7 linked regions of the Homo sapiens genome follow. The protein of the gene in region 6 purifies or fractionates together with the protein of the main gene of each other region. This does not show direct contact. Each region holds a gene or a part of one and is shown on either strand. Other genes may lie near its edges. The genes, in order: SLC2A1, VPS8, FUNDC1, ATP13A3, BRI3BP, DHCR24 and SLC30A7.

Evidence for each region.
Region 1: the proteins of DHCR24 (region 6) and SLC2A1 purify together in Homo sapiens (affinity purification with mass spectrometry; one large-scale study listed by BioGRID and IntAct). This does not show direct contact.
Region 2: the proteins of DHCR24 (region 6) and VPS8 purify together in Homo sapiens (co-immunoprecipitation; one large-scale study listed by IntAct). This does not show direct contact.
Region 3: the proteins of DHCR24 (region 6) and FUNDC1 purify together in Homo sapiens (affinity purification with mass spectrometry; one large-scale study listed by BioGRID and IntAct). This does not show direct contact.
Region 4: the proteins of DHCR24 (region 6) and ATP13A3 purify together in Homo sapiens (co-immunoprecipitation; 2 studies listed by BioGRID and IntAct, with this or other methods). This does not show direct contact.
Region 5: the proteins of DHCR24 (region 6) and BRI3BP purify together in Homo sapiens (affinity purification with mass spectrometry; one large-scale study listed by BioGRID and IntAct). This does not show direct contact.
Region 7: the proteins of DHCR24 (region 6) and SLC30A7 purify together in Homo sapiens (affinity purification with mass spectrometry; 2 studies listed by BioGRID and IntAct, with this or other methods). This does not show direct contact.

Annotation. Positions count from the first base shown.
Region 1 is NC_000001.11:42,924,853-42,927,868, forward strand, and holds the end of SLC2A1 (solute carrier family 2, facilitated glucose transporter member 1), read right to left. Parts: intron 2,957-3,016; coding exon 2,753-2,956; intron 2,390-2,752; coding exon 2,189-2,389; 3' UTR 501-2,188; downstream 1-500. UniProt on the Homo sapiens protein: Facilitative glucose transporter, which is responsible for constitutive or basal glucose uptake. Has a very broad substrate specificity; can transport a wide range of aldoses including both pentoses and hexoses.
Region 2 is NC_000003.12:184,853,666-184,857,165, forward strand, and holds part of VPS8 (vacuolar protein sorting-associated protein 8 homolog), read left to right. Parts: intron 1-191; coding exon 192-345; intron 346-448; coding exon 449-508; intron 509-2,045; coding exon 2,046-2,153; intron 2,154-3,500. UniProt on the Homo sapiens protein: Plays a role in vesicle-mediated protein trafficking of the endocytic membrane transport pathway.
Region 3 is NC_000023.11:44,529,360-44,532,859, reverse strand, and holds part of FUNDC1 (FUN14 domain-containing protein 1), read left to right. Parts: intron 1-3,500. UniProt on the Homo sapiens protein: Integral mitochondrial outer-membrane protein that mediates the formation of mitochondria-associated endoplasmic reticulum membranes (MAMs).
Region 4 is NC_000003.12:194,431,503-194,435,002, reverse strand, and holds part of ATP13A3 (polyamine-transporting ATPase 13A3), read left to right. Parts: intron 1-1,106; coding exon 1,107-1,231; intron 1,232-3,110; coding exon 3,111-3,286; intron 3,287-3,500. UniProt on the Homo sapiens protein: ATP-driven pump involved in endocytosis-dependent polyamine transport. Uses ATP as an energy source to transfer polyamine precursor putrescine from the endosomal compartment to the cytosol.
Region 5 is NC_000012.12:125,028,145-125,031,644, forward strand, and holds the end of BRI3BP (BRI3-binding protein precursor), read left to right. Parts: 3' UTR 1-3,087; downstream 3,088-3,500. UniProt on the Homo sapiens protein: Involved in tumorigenesis and may function by stabilizing p53/TP53.
Region 6 is NC_000001.11:54,873,696-54,877,195, forward strand, and holds part of DHCR24 (delta(24)-sterol reductase precursor), read right to left. Parts: intron 2,353-3,500; coding exon 2,247-2,352; intron 1,517-2,246; coding exon 1,398-1,516; intron 1-1,397. UniProt on the Homo sapiens protein: Catalyzes the reduction of the delta-24 double bond of sterol intermediates during cholesterol biosynthesis.
Region 7 is NC_000001.11:100,913,090-100,916,589, reverse strand, and holds part of SLC30A7 (zinc transporter 7), read right to left. Parts: intron 2,928-3,500; coding exon 2,784-2,927; intron 1-2,783. UniProt on the Homo sapiens protein: Zinc ion transporter mediating zinc entry from the cytosol into the lumen of organelles along the secretory pathway.

The sequences.
Region 1 (3,016 bases), about 12 Mb from region 6:
GTAGTCCTCGCGTCCGGCCACCGGCGCGGGGCTCCCACCCATCCCCACCCCACCCCACCCCACCCCACCCCGTCTGTTTCCTTTCTGGTCCAGTGGGGACAGCCCTGAGTGAGCAGCGTCGTAGGAGTAAGATACCTGGGCCCCCGGCCTCTCCTTCTTGCCCTGCCCCCGCACCCCCTCCCGCACGGGGACCCGGATAACTCCTTTCAACAGAAGTCTTTTGGGAGCACACGATAAGGCTTCCTTTCATCTGGCCTCAGCCCTTCACCAGTTAACCGCCCTGTCCCCAGGCTCAGGCAGGGCATATTCTTCGCAACCTGCTCTTCTTTGTTGAGATGCAGATGGATGTCCTCATAGATTCTTTATACCTAATGGTAATACATATAGGTATTTCCATTTGCTAAGTACCAGTTTTCCTTTCTCACACCCTTCTTACAACCCCTCTTCATGTCAGGGAGAAAAAAGCCTGCCTGTAGTTACAAAAGCAAACTTCTCCCAGATTTTGTCAGCTGAGCCTCTAGAGACAAATATCTTTGGTGTTTTATTTCCTCCAGTATTTTCTGAGTGCCTGCTGTGCATCAAGCACTGTACTGAATAGTGCTGAGGACCCACAGGAACCAAATCGGCATCTTCTCATGAAATTCAGACTAGTGGCAGAAAACTGGACTTGTGATGAAGGAGCAGATGAAGTGCTCTGGAAATTCAGGGGTGAAGGAGGAGGATGAGCTGTCTTTAGAGATGAAGCAGTAGTATACAGAGGAACCAGAGGGGGCAATTCCAAATGAAATGAACACAGGGCAGCTTGACAGCTCATTGGGCCCATACAAAGAACGTGGTTCATTTTGTGTGTGTGGGGAGGGGTGCAGGAGGTGGGTGGAGTTAATGGAGTAGTGGTTGTATGGTACCATTGTTAAAAGCAGGTGTTTTAGCTTATTCACTGTGCGACTTCAGGCACATAACCTCTTTGAGCCTGTCCAATAAAGGTACAGTATTTACTTCACATTCAAAATAATGCATTTCAAGCCTGAGCATCACGGCTGGCACAAAACTAGTGTTTTTTTGAACACCAACTATCAAATATGTGATAGAAATGCCTTGAATGTCAAGATAAAGAATGTATATATTCTCTGGGTAACAGGGATCAAACAGATTTTTGAGCAAGAGGACACTGATGAGAGGTACGTGTAAGGGACTGGATCCTGAGTCGAAGTCTAAGCCGTTGCAGTGGTTGCAACCCCACTTACTTCTGTCTCACTCCCATCCAAACCTCCTACCCTCAATCCACAAGCATTTCAAAACCATGTTTCTAAAAACCAGCCATTTATATCTGTTTAGGTAAGTAACAGGAGTGAGGTGGTGTATTTACAAGTTGGCTTGTCCAGATATACTATAACTTAGTGTCTGTATTTAATATTGACAACCAAAAATATATATAAATATCTTGCATCTATACACAACAGGGCAGGAGTCTCCATGTCTTCTTGAGCAGTGAGTTTGCAGGCTCCCACAGGCCCTCTTCTCATGGTAATAGTGTGGCCCTCAGTGCAAAGGAGACTAGAACCCGGCAGCCCAGACTGGCCCTTCCCCTCTCCTCCCTGCACTCCAGTGCTCCCAACTGGTCTCAGGTAAAGAAAGATTAATTTGAGTGGTTGGGTAGGAAGAGATGGGAAGGGGCAAATCCTAATGGAGCCTGACCCCTAGAGTGGGGAGATCCAGGCCAGCAGAACGGGTGGCCATAGCCACCTCCTGGGATAGAAGCTTTGTAGTTCATAGTTCGATTAGTGTGTCCTTAGGACATAGGTCCAGCCCTACAGATTAGCTGGGTGAAGAAGGCAAGTGTCTCGACAGGGCTTAGTCTCCACCCTCAGGCATGGAACCATTCAGGGTGAAGCCTGGGATGTGGGCACAGGAGACTCAGGCTGATATAAAAATAACAAAATCAGTAATAAAAAAATTATAAAACCTGTTGCTTGTCTGAATAGATTTGAGCAACAGTCTTGCTTTTGTTAAAATCCTGGAGCCGTTAAGTCCTGAATATTCTTCTGGACATCATTGCTGGCTGGAGAAAGGAGCCCCAGGCCCGGCTCGGCTGACATCTGTCAGGTTTGGAAGTCTCATCCAGCTGCCTGTGCTCCTGAGAGATCCTTAGGGCTGCTGGGAGCAGGCCGGGCTGGTGATCTGGGGCGACTCACACTTGGGAATCAGCCCCCAGGGGATGGAACAGCTCCTCGGGTGTCTTGTCACTTTGGCTGGCTCCCCCCTGCCGGAAGCCGGAAGCGATCTCATCGAAGGTCCGGCCTTTAGTCTCAGGAACTTTGAAGTAGGTGAAGATGAAGAACAGAACCAGGAGCACAGTGAAGATGATGAAGACGTAGGGACCACACAGTTGCTGAAAGACACACAGACACACTTGGTTGGAGTCATGACCCTACATCCTGGCTGTAGGACTTTGGATAAGTCACTTTACCTTTGGGCCTTTGAGCTGAAAAGGGAACATCCACCTACCCAGGGATGCTATCATAATTAACTGAGACCACGCTTGTACCTAGAATGTAACAGGCTCCAGGAGCACCATTCAAGGCTAAGGGGAGAACCCTGGAGTTGAGGTCAGCATTCTTGGTCATGTGACCTGGGCTTCCTACCCTCAGTTTCCTCCTCAGCATGATTCCTAATGAGAATGCTGGGCCAGCACTTTGCACAGCACTGTGGGGTCATGCGTGCGGGTGAGTATAGAGACAGTGGGGGTTCTCACCTCCACATACTGGAAGCACATGCCCACAATGAAATTTGAGGTCCAGTTGGAGAAGCCTGCAACGGCAATGGCAGCTGGACGTGGACCCTGGCTGAAGAGTTCAGCCACGATGAACCATGGGATGGGGCCAGGACCCACTTCAAAGAAGGCCACAAAGCCAAAGATGGCCACGATGCTCAGATAGGACATCCAGGGTAGCTGCTCCTGTTGAGGATGACGGAGAGGGGGAAAAGTTAGACTGGGTTGTGATGGATCCTCAGGGGA
Region 2 (3,500 bases), on a different chromosome or scaffold from region 6:
GACTGTTTTTGGCAGAAAAATAAATGAATCTGACTTGTATAATAAAAAGACCATGCTGCTGTCCTGTGGAGCTTGGATTGTTGGGGGTTAAGGAGGTAGGAGGTAGGAGGCTATGAAAGTAGTCCAGGTAGAGATAGTAGTGCCTTGGATCATTGCTAAATTGATTCTGAATTTTCAAATTGCATTTTCAGGAGAGTGATGGGAGTGAGAACCTGTGAATCTAGATGTCTGTTCAGTGGTTCCAAGGGTGAAGTCTGCTGTATTGAGCCTCTGCATTCTAAGCCTGAGTTGAAAGATCATCCCATCACACAGTTTTCATTATTGGCCATGGCATCCTTGACAAAAGTAAGTGTATTTAGAAGTTAAAACTCAGAACTTTTAGAAGCTTTGAATACCAAATATTTGAAAATTCCAAGGTCAATATTGAAAACATATTTTTCTCTTACAGATACTGGTCATTGGATTGAAACCATCCTTGAAAGTATGGATGACTTTTCCCTATGGCCGGGTGAGTACGTCCCTCCATCTTATTTGCCAAAGGAAGGACCATGTCAGGAGGTTGAGAGAGATGGCTTGCAAGGGGTGAATTCTATGAGATTGTCAGAAAACTAGACAGGATGAAAGTCAGTGCTCCAGAGATCGTTGGCTGGACTTGCCTTAAGGTGATCAAAGCATCATAAAGCTGATGACCAGCACAGTGTCCTAGGGATCATGAGTCTTGTACTTTTCCACTTTATCACTTTAAGCTTTTCTCTCATAGACAGCATACAGTTGGCTTTTGTTCTTAACCTTAACTTGACAGTCCCTGTATATTGCTGTCCTGGTACTCTGTGGTCACACCTAACTTCATGCATGGCATTTCCTAGCTTCATTCGTTGCCCTTCTGAGTGCAGTAAAATTCCCTTATCAGATTTAAAGTTGAAGGATAAGTTGATTTATTGAGTCCAAGCCCTGATTTTCAGTGTTTGAAAGATACTTGTTTTTACATGGCTGCTGTGCTGAGACAGGCTTATACTCACTGCCTGCAGCTTTGGCACTGAACTATGGATAGAGTAGACCCCACTGTAATATGCGCCATAGATTGCTATTACATGTGCTTTCCCTGGCTTCTGCCTCTGATAATTTACTTTGGAGGATGATACTTCCTAGCATGTGTTATTTATATCCCAGTTTTCCCTTTTTTTTCTTCTTGATTGTTTTCAGAGTTGTAATCTTCCAATGTATATATGAGGAGAGGTGTTGATAGGATGGGATGGAGAATGGTGGTACAGAACTCTGGCTGGTGCAGAAAGCGTTCCCTATGGTGAAGGAACTCACTTTTGTTTTCTTGTTGGTACCCTGTGTGTCTCTGGGCCCTAGGGGAAGCAGGTCTATCCTTTCAGATGGCAAAACTGGCTTAGATGGCCATTAACATTTGTTAGATTAGCTTCATTGGCGAATTGAGATTTTTTTCATGGTGTTATGTGTTTGCTTCTTTTTGTATGTTTTTATTGTTTTTTTTCAACATTTTATTATAAACATTTTCAAACAAAATTGAATTTTACATTGAATACTTGTATAGCTACCATTTAAATTCTATAATTAACATTTACTGCCCTTTATTACATATCTGTCCATCTACCCATCCCTCTGTCCACTTATCAAATTATATTTTTTATGTATTTCAAAGGAAATTTCAGAAACCAGTATTCTTTCCCCTAAATATTTAGCATGCATATTATTAGCTAGAGTTTAATACTTCTTTAGGTTTTTCCTTTGGTGTAGAATATACATACAAAGAAATGCACAGATCTTGAGTGTACATTTGCTGAACTTTGACAAATGCTTAACACTTTTGTAACTCAAATGCCTATCAAGATGTAGAACATTACCATCAACCCAGAAAGTTCCCTCATGATACCTCCCAGTTAGTTCTTGCTTTACTGAGAAATTGGGGAAAGTTTTTATCAAGGAACACTAGTCAGATGCTGTTTTTAACCATAGTTTTCTCTTTGTCCCCTTGTTTATTAACTGTGATGATTTTTTTTTTCCATCTCCCTACTTAGATGGATCCTTCCAGTGTGCCACTGCTGGCCTGGCACTTTGTAGCAGTACAAAATTACGTGAATCCCATGCTTGCCTTCTGCAGAGGAGATGTTGTTCATTTTCTATTGGTAAGTCCTAATATGACCATTAGAAAGCCTCTTACAATTTTTTTTATTCATCAGCAATTAATAATGTGTCAGAGAAATTTGTGTTACTATCCTAAGTCTTTGGAGAGAGAGTGACCTATTTAATTTTTATCTAAGGCTTTAATGATTAGCATCGGAAAATGGTGATCACTCTCAGCTACATAACTTCTCATGGTTTATTTCTCAGCTTCATTTCTTTGACTGACAAATAATTAATGGTATATGTAAATGTATAAAGATATGAATGTGAATATGTGTTAATGTATGTGCAACTACATATGTGTGTATTAATGACAGCAAGTATCATTGAGCACCTATTATGTCCTCTACACTGTGATGGGCACAAGCAGCAAAGGAAAGAAGGAAGTATACAACATAATTTCATCTTCCACACAGCTTATAATCTTGTTTGAAAAGCAAAATCAGTGTGTTCATTATTACTACAGAAAATGGTTTAAGGATTGAACTATGTGATGAAAATCAAGCTGATGTAAATTCAGAGTACAAAGTGATTAGTATGGACTAGAGAGAGTATTAATGGCTTTATGAAGGATATACTGCAACTACTGCAGGAAGGGTAGGTATGCATACTGGGGGAAGTGAGATGAACTGAAGTCACAGAGGCAAGAATGTGCCTTTGTATTAATAATCTCTTGCGTTTCCTAGCTCAGTGAAGCAAGTTCACCACTGTCCACCTAGTTTCTCCAGCCAGAAACTTACGAGTTACTTTTCAGTTACCTTTCTCTCTTCATATGTGCTCTATCACCAAGTCCTATTGACTCTACCTCCAAAAATCTCTTGAATTTCTCCTTTTTTGTCTCCCCCATTGCTGTTTCCTTAGTCTAAATCATGTACATGTCTAGCCTGGATTCTGCCATAGCTTCCTAGCTAGTCTCTGGCCTCAGTGCCTTTTACATATACTGTTGCCTCTGCCAGGAAAGTTCTGTGCTATCTTCTGTTGTCTCTGAGCTCATGATTAACATGACCTTCCCTGGCCTCTGAACTAAGTTAGTTACATGCATCTTTTGATAACATTCAGCACTTAAAAAAAAACAAAAGAGGGACGAGGTCTTGCGGGTCTCCAACCAAGGCCCAGGCTGACTCTCGAACTCCTGGCCTCAAGCGTTCCTCCCACCTCAGCCTCCCAAATATTGGGATTACAAGTGTGAGCCATTGTGCTTGGCCACATTCAGCACTTTTAAAATTACTTGTCTAATATTTTTCTTCCCCACTAGACAGAAAGCTCCATAACTCTAGAGACCATCTTTACTGTTATATTTCCAGCCACTAGGACAGTGCTTGTATATTGTAAATATTCAGTAAATGTTT
Region 3 (3,500 bases), on a different chromosome or scaffold from region 6:
CATATTTAGGCCAGGCATGGTGGCTCACGCCTGTAATCCCAGCACTTTGGGAGGCCGAGGCGGGCGGATCGCCTGAGGTCAGAAGTTCGAGACAAGCCTGGCCAACAAGGTGAAACCCCATCTCTACTAAAAGTACAAAATTAGCCGGGCATGGTGGTGCATGCCTGTAATCCCAGCTACTCGGGAGGCTGAGGCAGGAGGATCATTTGAACCTGGGAGGCAGAGGTTGCAGTGAGCCGAGATCATGTCATTGCACGCCAGCCTGGGTGACAAAAGCGAAACTCCGTCTCAAAAAAAAAAAATATATATATATATACACACACACACACATATATATATTTAAGCCTCTTGATTGTCAAGTAGCCTTCCAGAAAGTATTCCTACTATCCCCATATGAGAGGATCCACCAGCTTTTCCCCCTTTTCATACTGTACTCTTGGGGTTCCTTTTTTTTTTTTTTTTTTCTGAGACAGAGTTTCACTCTGTTGCCCAGGCTGGAGTGCAAGTGGTGTGATCTTGGCTTATGGCAGCCTCAGTCTCCCAGGTTCAAGTGTTTCTCGTGCCTTAGCCTCCCGAGTAGCTGCAATTACAGGCGCACACCACTGTCTGGCTAATTTTTGTATTTTCCGTAGAGATGGGGTTTCACCATGTTGGCCAGGCTGGTCTTGAACTCTTGGCCTCAAGTGATCCGCCTTCCTCAGCCTCCCAAAGTGCTGGGATTACAGGCATGAGCCACCGTGCCGGGCCTCATACTGTACTCTTTGGAAGGGAGTCACTGTGTATAGCCCACATTTCAGGAGTGTAATTATGCTCCACCTTTCTGAAGGCAGAGTAGCTACATAAATTATTTAGAAATAGTCTGTTGGAAGGTTTGTCTCTTATTTATTCAGTCATTTATTTATATCAATATGGACTCATGGATATTTATTTTATACTTTGGTTTATAATCTAATGCTCTTTTATTGCTCAAATTTTACCAGCTTTGGCCATTAAGAGCTCTTTCAGTTGTGCATTGTCTTTTTTAAGCTCTCTGAGGACATAAATGATCAAGCTTCTGTGTGTGTGTGTGTGTGTGTGTGTGTGTGTGTGTGTGTTTTAAGCTTCTTCCTACCAAGTCCCTGTTTGTCTAAGGTGTTTTGTTCCCCCTCCCCAACCTTTTTCCTGCTTGTTTATTTTGGTTTCTAGTTTTCAAGTTAAAGGCCTTCCTCCAAGTCTGATGATCCTTGGTTGTCTGCTCATATTTAAGAATTGAGCACTAAAAGTTGATGGAAAGCTCTAAACAATATGGACATGTGGATTGGGCTTTCCCTTCTCTGGGAAATCTGACCAGTCCAAGAAAAATGATCTAAAGATAAGGAGTTGGGGGTGGGCAGAATTTCCCGCAGTGAAACAGCCCAATTAGATCAGCATATGGTGAAGTTCACAAGCAAAAAGCCCCATCTACCTGTTTAGAGCTTTCTGGCCAACATGAATCTTCATCTGAAAGCCGTGTGTGTGTGTGTGTGTGTGTGTGTGTGTGTGTGTGTGTGTGTGTGTGTGTGTGTCTGGCCAACATGAATCTTCATCTGAAAGCCGTGTGTGTGTGTGTGTGTGTGTGTGTGTGTGTGTGTGTTTTTCTGGAAACAGTCTCACTCTCTGGCCCAGGCTGGAGTGCAGTGGCGTGACCATGGGTCACTGCAGCCTTGAACTCCTGAGGCTCAAGCGATCCTGCCACTTCAGCCTCTCAAGTAGCTGGGACTACAGGTGCATGCCACCATGTCTGGCTAATTTTTGTATTTTTTGTAGAGACAGAATTTCGCCGTATAGCCCAGGCTGGTCTCAAACTCCTGGGCTCAAGCAGTCTGCCTGCTTCACCCTCCCAAAGTGTTGGGATTATAGGCGTGAGCAACCGAGCCTGGCCTCTGGCATTATTATTTATTTATTTATTTATTTTTGAGACAGTCTCCCTCTTTCACCCAGGCTGGAATGCAGTGGCGAGATCTCAGCTCACTGCAGCCTCCGCCTCCTGGGTTCAAGAACCGCCTCCTGATTCTTGTAACTCAGCCTCCTGAGTAGCTGTGATTAGGTGTGAGCCACCACACCCAGCTAGTTTTTTGTGTTTTTAGTTTCACTGACATAGTTTCACCATGTTGACATGGCTGATCTCGAACTCCTGGCCTCAAGTGATCTGCCCACCTTGGCCTCCCAAAGTGCTAGGAGTACAGGGGTGAGCCACCACGCCCAGCCCCTCTGTCATCATTATTATTATTATTTTGAGACAGTGTCTCACTCTGTTGCCCAGGCTGGAGTGCAGTGGCGTGATATCGGCTCACTGTAGTCTCTGCCTCCTGGGTTCCAGTGATTCTTTTGCCTCAGCCTTCCAAGTAGCTGGGATTACAGGCATGCGCTACTATGCCCGGCTAATTTTTGTATTTTTAGTAGAGATAGGGTTTCACCATGTTGGCCAGGCTGGTCTTGAACTCCTGGCATTAGGTAATCCGCCTGCCTCGGCCTCCCAAAGTGCTAACATTACAGGCGTGAGCCACGGAGCCCGGCCTGGAATTATTTTATTTTATTTATTTATTTTTAACTTGGAAGCTTTTATTCTAATAAAAGTACCTTATGTAATCCCATTAAATATTTTAGTGTTATAGGAAGTCAAATGTTCAAAAAGCAGTCATCACTGCCCCATTCCCTCCCCAGTCTGTTGGCTTGCATTTCCTTGTAGTTGCAGATGAATTTTGTGTGGACAAGACTGAATTGGGTCCTGTATGTATTGGTTGGTTAAGTTGGTTGTACCTGAACCCCACTTGGGGCAGATTGCTTGTCCTTGGTCATCTCTGTACTGGAGCAGGGTGCTCAATTTAGACTGGTATTCTTCGGTTTGATCAGAAGTGTACTTCTCAGCTGGGTGCCGTGGCTCACTGTAATCCCAGCACTTTGGGAGACCAAGGCAGGAGGATGGCTTGAGGCCAAGAGTCCAAGACCAGCCTGGGCAACATAGTGAGACTTCATCTCTCTCTCTCTTTTTTAAGGCATTAATATCTTTAGCATCTCAAGGTTTTTCATTTTTCCTGCAAGGGAACAGATTCTCAAGGGAATTTGTTCAGTGATGGTAGATCACTCCAGCATCAAAGATCATTCTCTTGTTAGTAGACATGCTAGGTTGGGTCCTTTGGGATAATCTAGCTCATCCATTTTGTTGCTGAGAGTCATTATTTGAGCCAGGTTGGTTAATACAGCTTTTGAGATTTAGTCTTTATTCATTGTCTTTGTTATCATTTATTTACTATGTCTCATTCATCTGGCATTAGTTGGGACTCTAGGGATATAGAGATTCACAGCCCATATGGTCAGTGCTGAGCTAGAAGGGTGTGTTTAGTGCTGAGAGAGCAGAGGGAAGACGCTCTGTCTGCTTGGAGGTGTTAGGGAAGTCTTCTTCCAAAGAGGCGTTAGTATCTTTAGCATCTCAAGGTTTTTCATTTTCCTTGCAACTGTTTGACATTTTCCCCCAAAACGTA
Region 4 (3,500 bases), on a different chromosome or scaffold from region 6:
CATTGAGAAAAAAATTTCTATGATATAATTCAGGTAGGTTGAGGTGTTTTTTGTTTGTTTTCTTTTTTTGTTTGTTTCTTTTGAGATAGGATCTCTCTTTGTTGCTTAGGCTAGAGTGCAGTGGAACAAACACTTCTCACTGCAGACTTGACCACCTGGGCCTTAAATGATCCTCACTCCTCAAGCCTTCCAAGTAGTGGGACTGCAGGCACATGTCATCATGCCCAGCTAATTGTTTTTTCATTTTTTGTAGAGACGGGGTCTCACTATGCTGCCCAGGCTGGCCTCAAACTCCTAGGTTCAAGCAATCCTCCTATTTCAGCCTCCCAAAGTGGTGGGATTACAGGCATGAGCTACAATGCCTGACCTGAGATTTCTTAAGAACGTAACTATCACTGAACAGACTTCATCTCTTTTATAGTGCTAAAGCACGTACTATTTTTGTGTGCATCTCTTTGGTTGCATGTCTGTTTCCCCACCCAAGTGTCTTGAGAGCAGAGATCATCCCTTTTTGTCTTTAACCTCCCAGTGACTAGCATAGTGCCTGCTGCATTCTTGATACTCAGTTATTTAAAGAATAGCATCTTGATAACTATATTAGTAATATTTTCAAAGACCCATCTCTGGGTCCCAAGTAGATCTCATTGTTGGATTGCTAATGGTTCTTGTGTCACATTTTCAGGATCAGTAATTGTTTTATAGAATTGATCTGAGACTTGATAATGAATCCACGAAAACTGTATTGAATGTGCTTGTGGCACAGTTTTTTCTTTTTCACTTAACATTTAAATTAGGATATGTTGTAGAGGGCAGTAAAGAATAGATTTATGCTTATTTTTGGATACTACACAAAATGAATATTCCTTAGTATTAGAATTGTTTAGTGTACAGTGACATACATTTCCAAATGATTATTATATTGAGATACTGAACTCTTGAACACACACGTGGTTTATTCAGCATATAAAATGTTTTCATTTATAGATATTTTAAACTGCATTATAACTTATAGACATTTTTAATTGTTTAGATATTTCAAGTTTGTGTACATAAGTTGCTTACTCAATTGACTAAACCATTATGTGTTAAAACTTCTTTTTCTGCAGAGATGCAATTGAGAACAACATGGATTTTATGGGATTAATTATAATGCAGAACAAATTAAAGCAAGAAACCCCTGCAGTACTTGAAGATTTGCATAAAGCCAACATTCGCACCGTCATGGTCACAGGTTAGACTTTATAAAAGAACACAGAAGCAAATGGAGTGTGACAGAGCTGAAGTTATATTATATTGAGGGATAATCAGTTATAAAATCATATTATATAGTCTATAGTGGTTTCAACCTAAGTTCTCTTTTAGCTCTGAATATTTTCCCAAGCGCAAGATAACTTTGTCATATTCTTTTTGAGGTCTAGCGAATCCTATTTATAGAAAGTGTAGTAGAATAGTAAAAGTACGGCCGGGCGCGGTGGCTCACGCCTGTAATCCCAGCACTTTGGGAGGCCGAGGCGGGTGGATCATGAGGTCAGGAGATTGAGACCATCCTGGCTAACAAGGTGAAACCCCGTCTCTACTAAAAATACAAAAAATTAGCCGGGAGCGGTGGCGGGTGCCTGTAGTCCCAGCTACTCGGGAGGCTGAGGCAGGAGAATGGCGTGAACCCGGGAAGCGGAGCTTGCAGTGAGCCGAGATTGCGCCACTGCAGTCCGCAGTCCGGCCTGGGCGACAGAGCGAGACTCCGTCTCAAAAAAAAAAAAAAAAAAAAAAGAATAGTAAAAGTACACTGTAAAAATTTAAACTTGACTCCTTTTTGTTTTCTCTCTTTATTCGTATATTTCTTATAGCACTTATTGTACCTTGTGTTATTTGTAGATTTGTTTTCTGTACTAGAATATAAGATTCTTGAGGGTTAGGAGTATATTTTACTCATGTTGGGGTCCTTTGCAACTTTTAGAACTGTCAGCTACATAGAAAATGATTAATAGATATTCGATAGCATGAAATGTTTATATGTAAGATATTGTTTATTACCCTAGCTTGAATTCTAGTGAAATAGCCTACTTTTTTTTTTCTAGTACATCTAAGGGATTCTCCTGATGTTACTATACTGTTGATAATATTAGATAACTCTTACTCATTAGCTGTGTGAAATTGTGGTAGCTCTGTTTTTTGTTTTTTTTTCTTAGCAGATAATCAGATTTAAGATACTTAATGGCACTTACGTGTTCAGTAAGACTAATATGGAGAAAGTCTGTATACATTTTTGTGTTTTAGACTCTTGAGATCTATCTAATAACATAATTTTACCGTATAACTCAAGGTAACTAAGTCTGTTAGCATTCCAGCCATTCTTAGTTCTTGCGTCTTCTTTGTCAAGACACTTTTCACCTGTTCCTCGTCCTCCTCTTTTATTTATTTATTTATTTTCCCCTTGCCAGAATATGGCTTTGTGTACCAAAGGTCATAGGAAGATATTCTTGGAAATAGTGTGTGGAAATTGAGGAAAGAAATATCTCGCTCTTCTGTTTTGGTAGCAGTGGGATCCACAAACCTTTGTCTGCTTCTCCTTAATAAGATCCTGTTCTTGCTGCTCTTCTTTCTTCTCATGACTGAGAAGTTGTCTCTCTTGTTTCTCGTTTACACCTGTTCTTATTACCTGTCTTACCTTTTTGTTTTGTATGATCTTGCTTTTGTAATTCATCATTTTCTATGATATGGTGCTGGTGTTCTTGCACAGACCACTAGTCACTTTGTAAAGTTATTTCGGTAAGTATTTATTGAGCCACCTGATCTGTGTGTAGCACCGTGCCAGGTATTGTGTAGATACAAATAGTGCATGACTGGAAAAGATTGAGAATTATATTTGGCTTTAAAAATTGTGGGTGAGATGTTTTCTTTAGCATATAACGTGCTTGCGTTATTTGAGGCTTCTTTTGATAAGTATGCTCCAATTTTGTTATTTTTAAACTGTAAGTGGAAGAACCATACATTATCGTTACTCTGCCAGCCCAGTCATGGAGACTGTAGTAGATTCTCAGCAAGTACATGTTTGATACGTTCACGTTTCCATTTTAATTTCAATACATTTAAAATATTTTGAAAATTAGGTGACAGTATGTTGACTGCTGTCTCTGTGGCCAGAGATTGTGGAATGATTCTACCTCAGGATAAAGTGATTATTGCTGAAGCATTACCTCCAAAGGATGGGAAAGTTGCCAAAATAAATTGGCATTATGCAGACTCCCTCACGCAGTGCAGTCATCCATCAGCAATTGACCCAGAGGTAAGGTCAAGATCGACTGTCCGTTTTAAAGTTTGTTGATTTAAATTTAGTCTGAAAAAATAAAAAAAGTGGTGCATTAAAACACAGTAAAGCAAAAACTAAATGAAAACAGAAGTCAGGGCTATTTTTTCAGAGATTATGTTTCATTAGGACTGGGACAGACCCAGGAATCTCAATGTTCAAATTTTGATATTTAGCTAAGATGAGAAGCATA
Region 5 (3,500 bases), on a different chromosome or scaffold from region 6:
TATACCACGTTTAGGTACTAAAACAGCTTTGCTTATGTTGGCCAGGGGAAAACATGGCATTCTGTGCGCAAAGCTAATGATCGCCAGCCCTGCCTTGGCCCCTCCCTTGTTTATGGTCATTGTAAGATGCCCGCATGTTAAGGCTTAAGCTGTCACTGGGCTGGGTGTAATACCCGCTTCATTCCTCCTCCCACCCTCTTACCCGAAACATGAAGGGCACTGTGCTCTATTGAGATCTCGATAAGATCATCATTTTAACTTGTATTCAACTGAGGGAGGTAACATGATATCTGGGTGCTGGTGGATTGAGACCTCAAGCATCAATTCAAAATTGCTGTCGAAAATATGCACTATTTTTTTTTTCCACTCTGGCTAAGTGTAGGCTCTGAAGCCAGTTTTATAGCTTGATACATTCTGGTGAAAGATGTCTTCATTTTTAATGAAAGAACCTACAGTTAGTAGGTGTCACCTCAGGGTAGAAATTCTGATAGAAATTCTGATTATTTGAAACTCTGATAGAAATCCTAGATGCTAGATTTGAAGAAAACCTGGGTTTTATTGCATAGATTTCACCTTTTCTGGGGCACATCTTACCCCAAAATAATTGGGGATTTTTTTGTTCCTTCTCCATTCCATGGAACCTTGTAGGGTGTTGGGATTGGGCCTCCCCTCGCCACCCGCCACATGTCTTTGTTTTTTTCTCTCTTTTGTATGTGGAAAAATGTATTTTTGTACCATATCTCATACCTGGAGAGAAACCTTTTTTCTATCTTCAGGGCTGTAGAATATATTAGCGTAACACTTCACTGAATGTGACGTAAAAGCATTCTGATGAAAACTGGTTCTGTTATAATTAAGACTCAGTGTTTAAAATATCTTAATCAGTGTTAATTTCCCAGTGTTTCAGTATCACAGTAAATACTTGTTTTACTGAGAACAGAAAATAATCCAGAAAAGGAAAAGGACCAGCCCTCTCTAGATTGCTGGAATTGTATGGATGTGTTGGGGTTGGTTTAGTGATCTCTTCCTTGACACCCTAGCAAAGATGCTTTTGTGGAGTGCAAACCTTTCATAAATATACTTTCCAGGCTGGGTGCAGTGGCTCAAGCTTGTAATCCCAGCACTTTGGGAGGCCAAGGCGGGTGGATCACTTGCGGTCGGGAGTTCGAGACCAGCCTGGCCAACATAGTGAAATCCCGTCTCTACCAAAAAATACAAAAAAAAAAAAAAAAAAAAAAATAGCCAGGTGTGGTGGTGGGTTCCTGTAGTCCCAGCTACTCAGGAGGCTGAGGTGGGAGAATTGTATGAACCTGGGAGGCAGAGGTTGCAGTGAACTGAGATCACACCACTGTACTCCAGTTGAGGCGACAGAGTGAGACCCAGTCTCAAAAAAAAAAAAAAGTGTGTGTGTGTGTATATATATGTATATATATATACACACACACACACTTTCCAATACCAGTCGGCATTACCCGCCCTTTGGTTTCTTTTGCTTTGGATTTCAGCCCCCATATCATTTCTGGTAACAGAGCACAGCAATAGAATTTCTGGGAAGCAGACCTTGTGAATCGTGCCTGTGTCTTAATTCACAAAGGGTAAGTGAATGCCGTTGAAAGGTGTTTCATACACTTACCCCAGAAATGAGAGCCTGTCTCATGCAGGAGTCGGGAGGCAGCGATGTCAGGGAACTGGGACTATGTCTTTATGACTGTGATGGTGGTAACCAAGTGGGGTGGTCCCCTCTGGGGAGCTGAGTAAGAACGCAAAGGTTTGGGTCAGTGATTAGGAAGACTATAATATGACTTTGTGCATGCCCGGGAGGGCTGCCTTGTAGAGAGGATGTGAGCAGCTTAGTCGCTCATCTGGCCCTGTGATTCAGGCTTATGGAGCGTTAAGAATAACAGCTGTCAAATGGCCTAGACATGGTTAATGCAATTTGTTGCTAGTGGAAATCCTGAATTGCTTCCTTTCTGTGATCACTGCTACTTCTTAAGATGCTTTTGATGAATGTCATCTGCCTTACAAGTTGACACCTGATAACTTCTCCCTGATGGGTTTCCGAACTGGCTGACTTAACCAAAAAGCCAGCTCTTGCCATCTATCTTGCATTAAAAGGAATTCCTGAGGCTCCTAAGGGGTCAGCTGCCCCACTCCTGACTTTTTTATTTTTAATGGTCTATACCTTCTGCAACATTTTTGTTTATGGCCATTTGAATAGTTGGACTTTGACTCCTCACTTGTGAATAATAGGAATATATTTTGCAGAATCTAACATAATACCCTTAAAATTCATACTGGACAACCATCAGTGTGATGTATAGTATCTGGTGTAAACAAATTTTATTCAGCATATTAAATTATTCTGTGTTTTGCTTTTCCTTGATATGTAGGAGGTGCACCAGTACCAGTTTTTCTCTTGTGGTGGCTTAAAACGCTGATTGCCATTTGCATTGTCTACTGAAAAGCTGTGGCAGCGAGTGGTATTATTGACCATGTGTTCTCATGTCTTTTTGCAGATTTAAAGGTTTTATTGTAGTGTCCATTTAATATCTGCATGTGTGTTTAATCTCTGAATACCATGTAATTAAACTGATTAACTTGTGATGGTGATGGTGATTAGCACACACTAAAAACCCAATGAAGCAATTGTCTCCCTCTTCTTAACTGGAAATCACACTTGTGAGGTATGGTATCCATTATCAACAGTGGATTCATGATTGACTTCATATTTTGTGTATCTGGTTATAAATTTTGTATAGCATTTAATTTGGCACTTAATATAAATCCATTTGATTTGAATAGTGTGTGTGTGTACATGGTGTGTGTGTGTGTGTGCACTTTAGTTTCGTGAGCCTTGGGAAACTGATTCTACAAATATCTTATATAGAGATAAATGTATCAGGCATTTTTTTGCAAAGCGATATATACATTCCTCTTATTTATTAAATCACTGGCTTTGGTGTTATGTAGAGATATTTGTAGATCTCAGAACAGAATTAAAATATTGTGAAAATTACAGCTTAATAAATGTTTATTGTAATTTTGTTGTATGGACTTTTAAAATATATCTCATCACTTCTAACCAAACATTTGTGGAGTTTCCCCAGTTTTGATGTGTAACCAGGATTCTATGGTTCTATTCCTCGATCTGAGAAGAGTCATAAAACCTTGAATTTATGTATTCAGTTGGAGGTAAGGTTGCAAGATAAAATACAGGATGCCCAGTTAAATTTGAATTTCAGATAAACAACCAGTAGTGTTTTAGTATAGTGTAGAAGTGTTGGTTGCTTATCTGAAATTCAAATGTAAGCAAGTTTCCTGTATTTTTAGTTGCCAAATCTGACAGTCCTAGCACAGTGATGCGTGCCTCTCCACCCCACCCCGCATACCCATGCTGCTTTCTCAGGTCCTAACAATCCTTTTCTTTCTATTTTTTTTTTTTTTTTTTTTTTTTTTTTGAGATGGACTCTCACCCAGGCTGGAGTGCAGTGGCGAGATCT
Region 6 (3,500 bases):
CTAGAGTGCAGTGGCGTAATCACGGCTCACTGCAATCTCTGCCTCCCAGGCTCAAGTGATCCTCCTGCTGCAGCCTCCACAGTAGCTGGAAATACAGGAACACATCACCATGCCCAGCTAATTTTTGTATTGTTTGTAGACCATGTTGTAGGCCATGTTGCCCAGGCTGGTCTCAAACTGCTAAGCTCAAGCAGTCCACCTGCCTTGGCCTCCCAAAGTGCTGGTATTACAGGAGTGAGCCACTGCACCCAGCCTTGTGTCTAAGTTTTTAACAAAAAAACTTTAACAAGTTAAAAAAAAAGTTTAAATAGAAACAAGCTTATAGAATAAGGATATAAAGAAGGAAACTATTTCTGTACACCTGTACAATGTGTTTGCATTTTAAGCTAAGTGTTATTACAAGAGTCAAAAGTTTTTAAAAAGTTTATAAAGTAAAAATGTTATAGTAAGCTAACAGTATTTATTATTGAAGAAAGAAAATTTCAAAAAATAAATTTAGTGTAGCCTAAGTGTACAGTGTTTATAAAGTCTACAGTGGTGTACAGTAATGTCCCAGGACTTCACATTCACTCACCACTCACTCACTGACTCACCCAGAGCAACTTCCAGTCCTGCAAGCTCCATGCATGGTAAGTACGCTACATAGGTGTACCATTCATCTTTTATACTGTATTTTTACTGTACCTTTTCCAAGTATAGGTATGTTTAGATACATAAATACCATTGTGTTACAGCTGCCTACAGTATTGAGCACAGTACCATGCTGTATAGGTCTGTAGTCAAGGAGTAGTAGGCTATCCAAATAGCCTACGTGTGAAGTAGGCTATCTCATCTAGGTTTATGTAATTACACTCTTATGATGTTTGCACAATGACAAAATTGCCTACAACTTGTTTCTTATAACATATCCCTACTGTTCTGTGACACATGACTGTACCTCACAGTGTTAAGACACACAGCTTTGATGCCAAGGCCTGACTTCCTCTCCAGAGAGGCAGGATGGCATAATGAACGGCTAAGGGACCTGGGAGCCTGATTACTGGGGTGTGAGTCCCAGCTGTGTGACCTATGGCAAATAATCTCTCTGAGCTTTAGTTTCCTATCTATAAAATAGGGATAATAATCCTTCTATTATTTAATAATAATCTATAAAATAGGGATAATAAACCTCCCTCATTAGGTTGTTGAAGGATAACATGCATGCCTTAATATATATAATGGATTTACAACATTGCCTAAGCTCATATAAGGGGCTACACAAATTTTTGTTTACAGATATAGACCCAGACTGAACAGGTACTGGGAATGAAGCACACCTAGAGGAGCCACCTCCCTGACCTCAGGATCCTTAATGCCCAGAGCAGGCTGGCATGGACATCTCCCATTGCTGAACTCACCGGAGTGCATCGCACAAAGCTGCCATCAGCCAGGACCAGCTCGTAAGCAGTGCAGATGTGTTGGAACAGGCCGTACTTGTGGGATGATGACTCGATGCCTGTGCCCATGATCAAGCCCCCTGCAGAGACATCACACACAGTGTCAGCAGGGAGAGCTGTGGGTACAGGGTTGGGGGTGGGTTGGAGCTGGGGGGCCTCCTAGCATGAGGGAGGTTTGGCAGGCTAGCAGAAATGGGGCTGTTGACTTAGGGGAGATTTCCCACCTGTCAATCTAGAGAGCAGGAGAGGGAAGGAGGGGCTCAGATGGGAGCATGAGGGTGTCCTTAGAGGAAGGGAGTGGCGAGCAGACCTTGTCAAGTGTACTCACACCTCACCTCTGGCCAGACTCAACCTAGAAATCTGTGTGCATTCATCTTGAGAGGGACTTTAATGAAAAGGGGGGTTGAAGGGGTGACAGGAAGCCCTGTCCCATGGGAATAGTTAAAAGAACTGAAGGTGTTTTCCCTGAAGAAGAAGAGGCTTTGGGGGCTATGAATCCTATGGGAGGAGAAGAGAGACTATACTTATTCTGTGTGTTCCATGGGGGGGAATTGGAGCAATGGGAACAAGTCACAGGGAAGCAGATTCAAACCAGAAATTAAAAGTGCCTTCTGATAACTTGAGCTGCTCAGAAATGGAACAGCAGGCAGTGAACACCCTGTCATTGGAGCAGGCAAGTAAGAGACTGAATGACTTCTGTCACAGATGGAATAGCGGCAATTCCAGGACTAGATGGAGGGTGGCCAAGGCCCATCAGCTCCGGTCCTAGGACCGTGTGTCTCTTCTTGCCCGTTAATATAGGGTCCTCACCCACTGTGAGGTCATCAAGCTCAGGCAACACGGGGAGAGTCCAGCCAATGGAGGTCAGCAGGGCAGTCACCTGGCCCATGGTCACCAAGGGCTCCACACGGACAATCTGTTGACACAAGAAAAGAGACCCTGGGTCAAAAGGAGGCTGCCAGGCCCAAGGGGAGCTGCTGCACACAGAAGGTGTCATCTCAAACCTTCCCAAACACTCACTGCAGGGATTCCTATATAGCCTTTACAGGCTCTTTCTAGAACATTGCCTTTAATTACAGGGAATGTGATTTCTGGCTCTCGGTTAGCTAGTGTTCAACCTCGCCCTTCAAGTATCTTTATACTAAATATTTGACTTAACCTTTTCTAAATTACAGGAGAAATACTCATTCACTTAGAAGATACAGCAAAAGTGAAGAAGAAAACAAAAATCACCCATCCTGGCTGGTCGTGGTGACTCATGTCTGTAATCCCAGCACTTTGGGAGGCCAAGGCAGGTGAATCATCTGAGTTCAGGAGTTTGAGACCAGCCTGGCCAACTTGGTGAAACCCTGTTTCTACTAAAAATACAAAAATTAGCCAGGCGTGGTGGCGGGCACCTGTAGTCCCAGCTGCTTGGGAGGCTGAGGCAGGAGAATCACTTGAACCTGGGAGGTGGAGGTTGCAGTGAGCCGAGATCGTGCCACTGCACTCCAGCCTAGGCAACAGAGTGAGACTCCGTCTCAAACAAACAAAAAAAAAATTCACCCTTCCTAGTTCTTCAGAATTACTAATGTTAATAACACAGTGTATTTACTTTGGTTTTTTTTTCCCCACACATACTGTATTGGTACTGTGAACCGCAAATATCAGAGACAGGTCTCAGTTAATCCAGAAAGTTTATTTTGCCAAGATTGAGGATGTGCGCCTCTGATACAGCCTCAGTACGTCCTGACAACATGTGCCCAAGGAGGCTGGTGCACAGCTTGATCTTACACATTTTAGGGAGACAGAACACATCAATCAATATATGTAAGAAGTATAGTGGTTCTGTCCAGGAAGGCGGGGACAACTTGAAGCAGGGAGAGGGCTTGCGGTCACAGGTAGATAAGAGACAAATGGCTGCATTCTTTTCAGTTTCTGATAAGCCTTTCCAAAGGAGCTAATCAGAATATGCATCTATCTCAGTGAGCAGAGGGATGACTTTGAATAGAATGCGGAAGCAGGTTTGTCCTGAGCAGTTCCCAGCTTGACTTTTCCCTTAGTTTAGTAATTTGGGGGCCCCAA
Region 7 (3,500 bases), about 46 Mb from region 6:
ATAAATGCCTGAGGAGAAGGATACCTCATCTCCATGATGTGATTATTTCACACTGCATGCCTGTATCAAAACATCTCATGTACCCCATAACAATATACACCTACTGGTTGGGCACAGTGGCTCACACCTGTAATCTCAGCAGTTCGGGAGGCCAAGGCAGGTGGATCACGATGTCAGGAGATTGAGACCATCCTGGCTAACACGGTGAAACCTCGTCTCTACTAAAAATACAAAAAGTTAGCTGGGTGTGGTGGCACACGCCTGTAATCCAGCTACTCGGGAGGCTGAGGCAGGAGATTCACTTGAACCCGGGAGGCAGAGGTTGCAGTGAGCCGATATCGCACCACTGAACTCCAGCCTGGGTGACAGAGCGAGACTCCATCTCAAAAATAAATAAATAAATAAATAATAAGAATATACAGCTACTATGTACCCACAAAAATTAAAAATAAAAAAATTTATTAAAAAAATAAAAAAGTAATAAATGGCCGAAGGAATAAAATAGACATTTCTCCAAAGAAGACATACAAATAGCCAACAGGTACATTAAAAGATGCTCAACATCACTAATCATCAGGGAAATGCAAATCAGAATCACAATAAGATATCATATCATACCTGTTAGGATGTCTATTACCAAAAAAGCAAAAGACAGTAAGTGTTGGGAAAGCTGTAGAGAAAAGGAAACCCTTGTATACTACTGGTGGCAATGTAAACTGGTGCAGACACTATGGAAAACAGTATGGAGGGTCCTCAAAAAAACAATAATGGAACTACCGTATGATCAGCAAACTGGGTATATATCCATGAGAATTGAAATCAAGAGCTCAAAGAGATATCTGCACTTCCGTATTCACTACAGCATTATTCACAATAGCCAAGACATGGAAGCAAGCTAAATGTCCATCAACAGATGAATGGATAAAGCAATGTGGTATATACATACAACGGAATATCATTCAGCCTTAAAGAAAGAAAGAAATCCTTCTAATTTTGACACATGAATGATCCTGAAGGACATTATGCTAAGTGAAATAAGCCAGACACAGAAGGACAAATACTACATTTATATCACTTATATAAGGAATCTAAAATAGTCAAACTCATAGCAACAGAGAATAGAATAGTGGTTGCCAGTGGTTGGAGGAAGTTGGAAAAGGGGAAATATTAGTCAAAGGGTACAAAGTTTCAGTTGTGCAAAATAAATAGGTCCTAGGGATTTGTATGGCATAGTGCCCATAGCTAATACTGTATTGTATACTTAAAAATCTGCCAAGAGTGTAGATCTTATGTTAAGTGCTCTTACTGCAAAAGTAGAAAGAAAGAAAGAAAGGAAGAAAGAAAGAAAGAAAGAAAGAAAGAAAGAAAGAAAGAAAGAAAGAAAGAAAGAAAGAAAAGAAAGAAAAGAAAAGAAAAAAGAAAAGAAGTGAGGAAGGGAGGGAGGGAAAGAAAGAAGAAAAGAAAAGAAAAAAGAAAAGAAAGAATTGAGAGTAGGAGGAAACTTTCAGTGGGAACGGATATGTTTATTGGAGAAATCATAGTGATGGTTTCATGGGTGCATACTTACCTCAAACTCATCAAGTTGTATACATTAAATATTTATCTGTTTTCATATGTCAATCATATCTCAATAGAGTAGTTAGAAATTTTTTTTTTTTTAGACAGAGTCTAGCTCTATTGTCCAGGCTGGAGTGCAGTAGCGTGATCTCAGCTAACTGCAACCTCCGCCTCCTGGGTTCAAGCTATTTTCTTGCCTCATGGAAAAATTTCAAAGACTGAAAAATGAAGGGCTTAGAAGGCTCACTCTTCAAGGTCCCTTTCATATTTTCAATTCTAAAGCTTTAGGATTCTGTCTATGTTGCAAATACAAGATAATACTTAAGCATACACTCTACTGAGAGTAATCAAATTGTGTCACCCAAGCAGCTTCTATTAAGCTATACTTTATAAACTATGTAAAATATAATTCAAAATAAAATATTAAGTTGATAAACACCTCATAACTTAGTACCCAATGCTACATAAGTTAGCATCCAAAGATTTCTAAAAAAAACATAGAGGTAAACATCAGGTGACAGACATCAAAAATTATAATACAAATGTGAAAAATTGAAAACCTCCACCATATTTTTATAAGCCAATATAGCACAAAAGGCCTCGTGATGCTTAAAAAATTATGATTTTCATTTCCTAAAATGCAATTGTTCCTCATTCACTAGTACTCATTTAAAATAGTGGCATTTGAGGGGAGGGAAAGGGGGACGGTTAATGAGTACAAAAAAATAGTTGAATGAATAAGACCTAGTATTTGCTAGCACAACAGAGTGACTATTGTCAATTTGTAATTTCATTGTACATTTTAAAATAACCAAGAGTATAATTGGATTGTTTATAACACAGGATAAATGCTTGAGGGAATGGAAACCCCATTTACCCTTACGTGATTACTATGTATTACATGCCTATACCAAAATGTCTCATGTAACCCATAAATATATACACCTACTATGTACCCACAAAAATTAAAAATTAAAAATAAATACATAAAAAAGTGGCATTTTATTATGATATACCCTCTGGAAAAAAGCGAACATCCACTGCCTTATACTGAGTTAATTTCATGCTATACAAAAAATAAACTAGCCCTGGGAACCATTTAGACTGATTCATTAGAAAAGAAGTTGATTTGGTATCTTTTTAATAAACTATTTCAACTAGGAAAAGTAATCCACAAAACTCTTGTTTATTTGGAGGCTGTCCATTTGTCTCTAGGCTGTACTCACCATGAGAATGAAAGTGTCCATGTCCATGAGCATGATCATGGCTATGTGCAGCACCATGTTTCACTTCATGGCTATGGCAATGATCGACATGGCCATGTGCCTGATCTAGAGCACCATTAAAGAGGGAATGACTGTGTCCGTGGCCTAGAAAACAAAGTGTTAGGACAGAAGGTATGTAAAAATATATTATATAAATGGTTACAATTATACTGACACTAGCGCAAAGAATCAGCTCTAAACTCAGATCAATTCAATAAACATTTACTTGTAAAAAGTGTTACACATTTGTTAAAACAATCCTGAGTTTCTGCTATGGAGTACCAGAAGGTAATGAAAGCATAGAGGAAAGTGATAGACCTTACTGGAAATGAAAATAAGTACTGACTGGAAGTATACAGATATCTCCAAAGAGGTCAGATAATGATATTCATTCATTTGAGAAATATTTATTGGTAACATTTTCTATTATAGGAATCATTCTAGGCACGGGAGATGAGGCAGTAAACAACAAAGACAAAATTCATGCCCAAAATTTTTCAAAGTACTATTACACACACTAACAAAGATTAACAAGACATATGCAAATGCTCACATTAAGGCAGACACAAGAAAGCTGCTGCATTTGGTAACAGAATCAGTAAAATTACATTAAAGCAGGTAGAAAAAGCTAAATGCAAAAGAATGCAGAATCCTTTCTCCACAGCATACCTAAAAATG